Homo sapiens: one gene and its partner. The protein of the gene in region 2 purifies or fractionates together with the protein of the main gene of each other region. This does not show direct contact. Each region holds a gene or a part of one and is shown on either strand. Other genes may lie near its edges.

What was found. The genes of interacting proteins can lie anywhere in the genome.
Region 1: the proteins of TP53RK (region 2) and NUP43 purify together in Homo sapiens (affinity purification with mass spectrometry; 5 studies listed by BioGRID and IntAct, with this or other methods). This does not show direct contact.

Annotation. Positions count from the first base shown.
Region 1 is NC_000006.12:149,732,798-149,736,550, reverse strand, and holds part of NUP43 (nucleoporin Nup43), read left to right. Parts: coding exon 1-80; intron 81-3,753. UniProt on the Homo sapiens protein: Component of the Nup107-160 subcomplex of the nuclear pore complex (NPC). The Nup107-160 subcomplex is required for the assembly of a functional NPC.
Region 2 is NC_000020.11:46,687,827-46,691,579, reverse strand, and holds the start of TP53RK (EKC/KEOPS complex subunit TP53RK), read left to right. Parts: upstream 1-2,135; 5' UTR 2,136-2,165; coding exon 2,166-2,448; intron 2,449-3,753.

The DNA.
Region 1 (3,753 bases), on a different chromosome or scaffold from region 2:
CCAAGATGGAATGTTGAGTATTTGGGATGTTAGACAAGGTACTATGCCTGTATCTCTGCTGAAGGCTCATGAAGCTGAAAGTAAGTATTGTGAAGATACAGAAAGTTTATATTGGGTGAGTTATATGACATATAATAAGCACCTTTCCATAATGATACATGTGGATCATTTTACATCATAGCTTTTAATGGCTGAATTGTGTAAATTTAAATAGTTATGTAATTTCTTTTTACTCGACATTTAAGTTCTTTAACATTTGTTTTTGTTTTTTTGGAGACGGAGATTCACCCTTGTTGCCCAGGCTGGAGTGCAATGGCGCTATCTTGGCCCACCGCAACCTCTGCCTCCTGGGTTCAAGCGATTCTCCTGCCTCAGCCTCCCGAGTAGCTGGGATTACAGGCATGCACCACCACACCTGGCTAATTTTATATTTTTAGTAGAGACTGGGTTTCTCCATGTTGGTCAGGCTGGTCTTGAACTCCTGACCTGAGGTGATCTGCCCAGCTCGGCCTCCTAAAGTGCTGGGATTACAGGCATGAGCCGCCGTGCCTGGTTTTTTTTTTTTTTTTTTTTTTAAAGAGACAGGGTCTGGTTCTGTCGCCCAGGCTGGAGTGCAGTGGTGCAGTCACGGCTCACTACAGCCTTGACTTCCAGGGCTCAGGTGATCCTCCCGCATCAGCCTCCCAAGTAGATAGGACTATAGGTGTGTGTCACCATGCCTAGCTGATTTTTTGTTGTTGTTTGTTTTTTTTTTTGTAGATATGGGGTTTCACTTTATTGCCCAGGCTGGTCTCAAACTCCTGGGCTCAAGTGATCCTCAGGAAGTGCTGAGATTACAGGTATGAGTTATGAGCCACCACATCAACCACAGGTTTAATTCTTATATCCAAAACTGTAGTTAGAATCCTTAGATATTTATCTCTGTGTGTGTTTTTTTTTTTTTTTTTTTTTTGGAGACAGGGTCTCTCTCTGTTGCCTAGGCCAGAGTGCAGTAGTGGTGTGATCATAGCTCATTGCAGCCTTGAACTCCTGGACTTACACGATTCTCCCAAAGTGCTGGGCATAGCCATTATGCCCATGCCCAGCCTTATGTACTTATTTTCTTAGGATAATTTTTTAGAAGTAGAATTGCTAGGCCAAACATTTTGCATAGCGCATTGACAGATTTTTCTACACAAAAATAATACCAGTTTAAGCCAGGCACATTGGCACATGCCTGTAGTTCCAGGCTCCTCCTACTCAGGAGCCTGAGGCAGGAAGATTGCTTGAGCCTGAGAGTTTGAGGCCAGCTTAGGCAACATAACCTCTTTAAAAAGTTAATAATACTAGTTTAATCCAGGTGAGTGGCATGCACCAGCTTCTCAGGAGGCCGAGGCAGGAGGATTGCTTGAGTCCAGGAATTCAAGGCTGTAGTGCATTATGATTGCACCTATGCACTCCAGCCTGGACAATATAGTGAGACCCCACTCCCTGAAAAGTGATAAAAATCATACCATTTTATATGCCATAGTGAAGTGTGCAAGAATGCCCTTTTCCCATGCAAATGCAGGCTGTCATATTTGTTAATAAATGTTGTGCTCCTCAATTTATTGTTGCATCACATCATTTTTTTTAACATGAACAATAGATTTATAAGCTTTTTTTTTTCTTTTGATTCTGGTGGAGATGATTTAGCCGGACAGAAATTTTTCATTTTCTCACTCTGTCTTTGATATCATGCCAGAATGGATTATCCTTTTTTTTTTTTTTTTTTGAGACAGAGTCTTGTTCTGTCGCCCAGGCTGGAGTGCAGTGGCACAATCGCGGTTCACTGAAACCTCTGCCTCCTGGGTTCAAGCCATTCTTCTGCCTCAGCCTCCCTAGTAGCTGGGACTAAAGGCATTTGCCACCATGCCTAGCTAATTTTTGTATTTTTAGTAGGAATGGGGTTTCACCATGTTGGCCAGGCTGGTCTCAAACTCCTGACCTCAGGTTATCTGCCTGCCTTGGCATCCCAAAGTGCTGGGATTACAGGTGTGAGCCACTGCGCCCGGCCCTATATATTTTTTTAAAAATGGGGTCTCTCTCACCCAGGTTGGAATGCAGTGGCATGATCACAGCCCACTGCAGCCTCAGCCTTGCCTCCCTGGCTCAATCAGTCCTCCCACCTCAGCCTCCCGAGTAGCTGAGGCTACAGGCACGCACCCCTACTACACCCGGCTAATTTTTTATTTTTTGTAGAGACAGGGTCTCAATATGTTGCCCAGGCTGGAGTGCAGTGGCATGGTACCTCACTTAAGCCTCAACCTCCTGGGGTCAAGTGATCCTCTTGCCTTGCCCTTCTGAGTAGCTGGGACTACAGGTATATGCCACTACACCTAGCTAATTTTTTTTATTATTAGATTTCTATAGAAATTATGATTCCATAAAAGATTTTGAGGAAATGATGGCCGGGGGCGGTGGCTTATGCTTGTAATCCCAGCACTTTGGGAGGCCGAGGCAGGTGGATCACCTGAGGTCAGGAGTTCGAGACCAGCCTGACCAACATGGAGAAAGCCCGTCGCTACTAAAAATACAAAATTAGCCGGGCGTGGTGGCACATGCCTGTAATCCCAGCTACTAGGGAGGCAGAGGCAGGACAGTCACTTGAACCTGGGAGGCAGAGGTTGTGGTGAGCCAAGATCGCACCATTGCACTCCAGCCTGGGCAACAAGAGTGAAACTCCGTCTCAAAAAAAAAACAAAACAAAACAGATTTTGAGGAAATGAGGAAGACTGGTATCTTTCAGAATTGAAAGTGATTTTGGAATATATAGAATTTCTTTGGGGCTGGGCACGGTAGTTCATGCCTGTAATTTTAGCACTTTGGGAGTCCAAGGCAAACAGATCTCTTGAGCCCAGTTGTTTGAGACCAGCCTGGGCAACATGGAGAAACCCCATGTCTGTTAAAAATACAAAAGTTAGCCAGGTATGGTGATACATACCTGTAGTCCTAGCTACTCAGGAGGCTGAGATAGGCGGATTGCTTAAGCCTTGGAGGTCAAGGCTGCAGTGAGCCATGACCATGCCATTCTGCACTCCAGCCTGGGCGCCAGAGCAAGACCCTGTTTCAAAAAGAGAGAGAGAATTTCTTTGAGTTGAATTATGTAGAAGTTTGTCACTGACCTATGTTCCTAAAGTATGAAGCATACATATGTGGGCTAAGAAATAGTTTTTCTTGATAAATAATCAACAAATAAAAAATAAAAAGCCCTCCATCTGAGACTGGATCCAAATTCTTGGAACATTTCCAAATTTTGGTTTGGTAGAAGTCAGTTGCTATTTCTGTGATAAAGACCAGAAGTATTCAGAATCTTGGCATTAACCAATATTGGATATTGCCTCTTAGAAATTCATTTTTATATTTCATTAGGATCTTTCTCAGTTTTTCCAATAATATAATCTTCATATATTAATGACACAGGAATTGAAAAATAAGACAACTTACCAATTTAAAAAAAAACTTTTCCGTAAAAGACAGTCATTCCTAGCTGGGCACACACCTATAATTCCAGCACTTTTGGGAGGCTGAGGCAGGAGGATTGCTTGACGCCAGGAGTAGAAGACCAAGGTAGACAACATAGCAAAACCCTGTCTCTATTTAAAAAAATAAAAATAAAATAAAATAAGCTTTTTCATAAAGTAATAGGGTTAAATGTTTTAGCAATGATTTTCTTTTCTTTTTTTTGAGACGTAGTTTTGCTCTTTTTGCCCAGGCTGGAGTGCAGTGATGCAA
Region 2 (3,753 bases):
AATTAAAAGTAGGCAAAAGATCCAAAGAAATCTTTCTCAAAAGAAGACATAAAAATGGACAACGGGTATATTAAAAAAAAATGCTCAACATCACTAATCATCAGCGAAATGCAAATTAAACCCACAATGAGATATCACCTCTGACCTGTTAGAATCGCTATTTTAAAACATAAGAAAGATAATAAGTGTTGGCAAGGATGTGGAGAAAAGGGAACCGTTGCACCCTGTTGATAGGAATGTAAATTAGTACAGACATTATGGACAACAGTATGGAGGTTCTTCAAAAAAAATAAAAATAGAACTACCTTATGATCCAGCAACCCTACTACTGGGTACATATCCAAAGGAAACAAAATCAGTATATTGAAGAGATGTCTGCAGTCCCATGTTAATTGCAGCATCATTCACAATTCTCAATCTGAGTGTCCATCACTAAATGAATGGATAAAAATATGGTACATTTATATACACAATGGGATACTATTCAGCCTTTAAAAAGAATGGAATGCTGTCATTTACAGCAACATGGATGGAACAGGAGGATATTGTGTTAAATGAAATAAGCTAGGCACAGAAAGACAAATATCCCATGATCTCACTTATATGAGGAAGGTAAGAAAAGTTGAACTCATGCAAGCAGAGTAGAATGGTGGTTACCAGGCGGTGGGGTAGGGGGAGGGAGATAGGGAGGATTTTGAGAAGTTGGTCAAAGGATACAAAATTTCAGTTAGATAGGAGGAAACATTCATGAAATCTATTGCACGACATGGTGACTATAGATAATAACAATGGGTTGTATTCTTGAAAAATGCTAAGATAATAGATTTTAAGTGTCCTCACCCCCGAAATGATCAGTATGTTAGGTAACGTTAACTAGCTGGATTTAGCCATTCCACAATGTATACATATTTCAAAACATGTTACTTACGATAAACACGTACAATTTTTACTTTTCCTTATGTACGTCTTCATCTGGCTGTTCATTTTTATCTTTTATACTATCTTTTATAATAAACTGGCAATAGTAAGTAAAGTGTTTTCCTGAGAAACAACAAACTGGAAACAACTGTTTAGCAACAAGAAACTGCCTGACCAGGTAGAAGGACGTGGTAGCTCTGTATGTATTGATATGGAATATAGTCTGAGATAAATTGTTTAGGAAAATGAAAAGCAAGTTGCCAAAGAACCCACAGTATGATGTCATTTATGTTGGAAAAAACGCCACAACGATGTGTGAGTGTGCACACTGAATGAAAGAAAATTCTGGAAAGAAACTAACGGCCAGCAGTGTCACAAGGGGGATAGGTAGTTTATTTATTTATGTGTGCGTGTGCAAAGTTCCGTATTGTAAGAATTTGCTACAGCCTGTGTTATTATAAGCTTTGTAATGAAACAGGTAGAAACTGAAAAAGTTTAATTATTCCCAATTCAGTTTAGGTTCTGTCTCCGGAAGACTTTCCCGGATTCCCCAGCCCCCACTCCCCACCCCATCTTACCACCCCCTCTGCCAGCTCTGAGTCTCAATTTTCTTTTCTGTAAGGATTTTCATCATTTAACCTTATTTCTTCTGAATGCACTAAATGGTAGTTATCCTAGCACTTAAGAGGATGTCGGAAACATGGTTCATTGTCTGACCCTTCCGACTCTGACTTGTATGAGCACATTTTGGGGGGAATGTAGGAGTCAGGGGAAGAGGAGTTCCAAAAAGAGACTACTAGAGGGTACAGCTGTCCCGGAAGAGACTTCTGAAGAGAGCAAAGCGCGTCCGACGTTTTTCTCGAGAGGCGCCGAAGTTTTCCGGAAAGAGACGACCAACTGAGAGGTGGGCCCCCAAAGCCGGCTGCGAGAGTCACCGAAGATTTCCGGAGAGCCAAGGAGTCGGGAAGAGCCACTTACTGAGCGTTGCCGAACGTGTACGGAGATAGCCGAAGAGGCGGAAGGCGGGGCCACAAGAGCCCTTCCTGCAGGGAACCTCAGGCTTCAGAGAGCCGAAAAGTTGGGAGGCGTAACCACTTACAGGCCGGAAGTGTCCGGGGTGGACGCATTCGGGTAGCCGAAGAAGTCCCAGGATTGCCGAAGAAGTCCCAGGATTTCCGAAGCGAGCCGAAGCATCGCGACAGTTTTCAGAGACAGCTGATCGGTTGGAGCTGTTGCGCCGAGCAGTCATGGCGGCGGCCAGAGCTACTACGCCGGCCGATGGCGAGGAGCCCGCCCCGGAGGCTGAGGCTCTGGCCGCAGCCCGGGAGCGGAGCAGCCGCTTCTTGAGCGGCCTGGAGCTGGTGAAGCAGGGTGCCGAGGCGCGCGTGTTCCGTGGCCGCTTCCAGGGCCGCGCGGCGGTGATCAAGCACCGCTTCCCCAAGGGCTACCGGCACCCGGCGCTGGAGGCGCGGCTTGGCAGACGGCGGACGGTGCAGGAGGCCCGGGCGCTCCTCCGCTGTCGCCGCGCTGGTAAGGTGGGCCGGGATCCCGGCGTGGGCGGCCCCGAGGCTCTGGGGCCTGGGCGGGTGAGGGACTCCCCTGCGCTCCGAAGCTGGATTTCCCTCAGTTTCTCCTTCTGTGCCTTCTGCGGTGTCCGGCCTTTCGGAAATGTTATTCTTTCATCCCTTTTTTCATTCGTTAAGTCTTAAGAAACCACGTGGCCATGCAGCGTCAAGCTTTTGTCCTGAGGCCGTTCTGCCTGGTTCAAATCTGGGATCTGTCATTATTGCTCAATGTTGAACATGTTTAACTTCCCTGAGCCTTGGTTTCCCCATTTGACTCGTTTCAATTTTCGATCATTATCTTTCCATTTATTAGTTTTAAGAAACATGTAATGACAAGTACTTGCCCCACTGGAGCCAGGCTCCCTGGGTTGAAATACTAACTCTGCTGCTTGTGTAGCCTTTCAACAAGTTATTTAGCCTCTCAGCCTCGGTTTTCTCACCTGTAAAATGGGAGACATAGTAGCAGTATCCATGTCATAGGGATGTTGTGACCATTAGAGGAGGTATGTGTGTCACGTATTATGTTCAAATGTGTGCCTGGCACATAGTGCCCAATAAATGTTGGATTTCATTAAATTGCCTATTTTTTCATTAAACATCATTGTGCGCCAGCACCATAAACTTTGTCCTCAGATGAGAAAGTGACACTCAGAGAGAAGTAACTTGCCCAAGGTTACACGGTTACTAAGTGGCCGGTCCAGGCCCTCAGCTCCTTATGCCTCTGACTCAGAAGCCCTGGCTTTTTACTTTTACGCTTCTTGCCTTTCTTTTATCAGTATTTTTTAGGTACCAGTGGGTACCAGGACATTGTTAAGTGCTGGGAGATCTGGGTGGGGGATATTCAGTAGCCAACAAGCGGACACATTGCTGCCCTTTCAGAGACTTAAGATTTCATGAAGTTATTTGTGTATTCATATTTCTGTTTTCAGCCTCATGATCTGTTTCGTTAAGCAGAGATTGTATTATAGCTGGCTTGTTTATTGCTGTATCCCCATTGATAACATCTCTCAGTTTCTAGAAAAGTATACTGAGCCTGGTTGACTTTCAGTAAAGATTCATTGAGTTTATTGGAGCTATTGTTCCTTGTATAGTAGCAGAAACTGAGGCTTAGAGAAGTTAATGTAATTTTAAGATTAGATTAGACAACTAATAAGAAAAGCAGCTGGGATTTGAACCCTGTCCTCTCTGACTACGAAGATGAACCTCGAAGCTAGCACACTGCTTGGCCTCCTGTTTGTGTCCTCATCAGTAGAAACTGCTCTGACTGGGC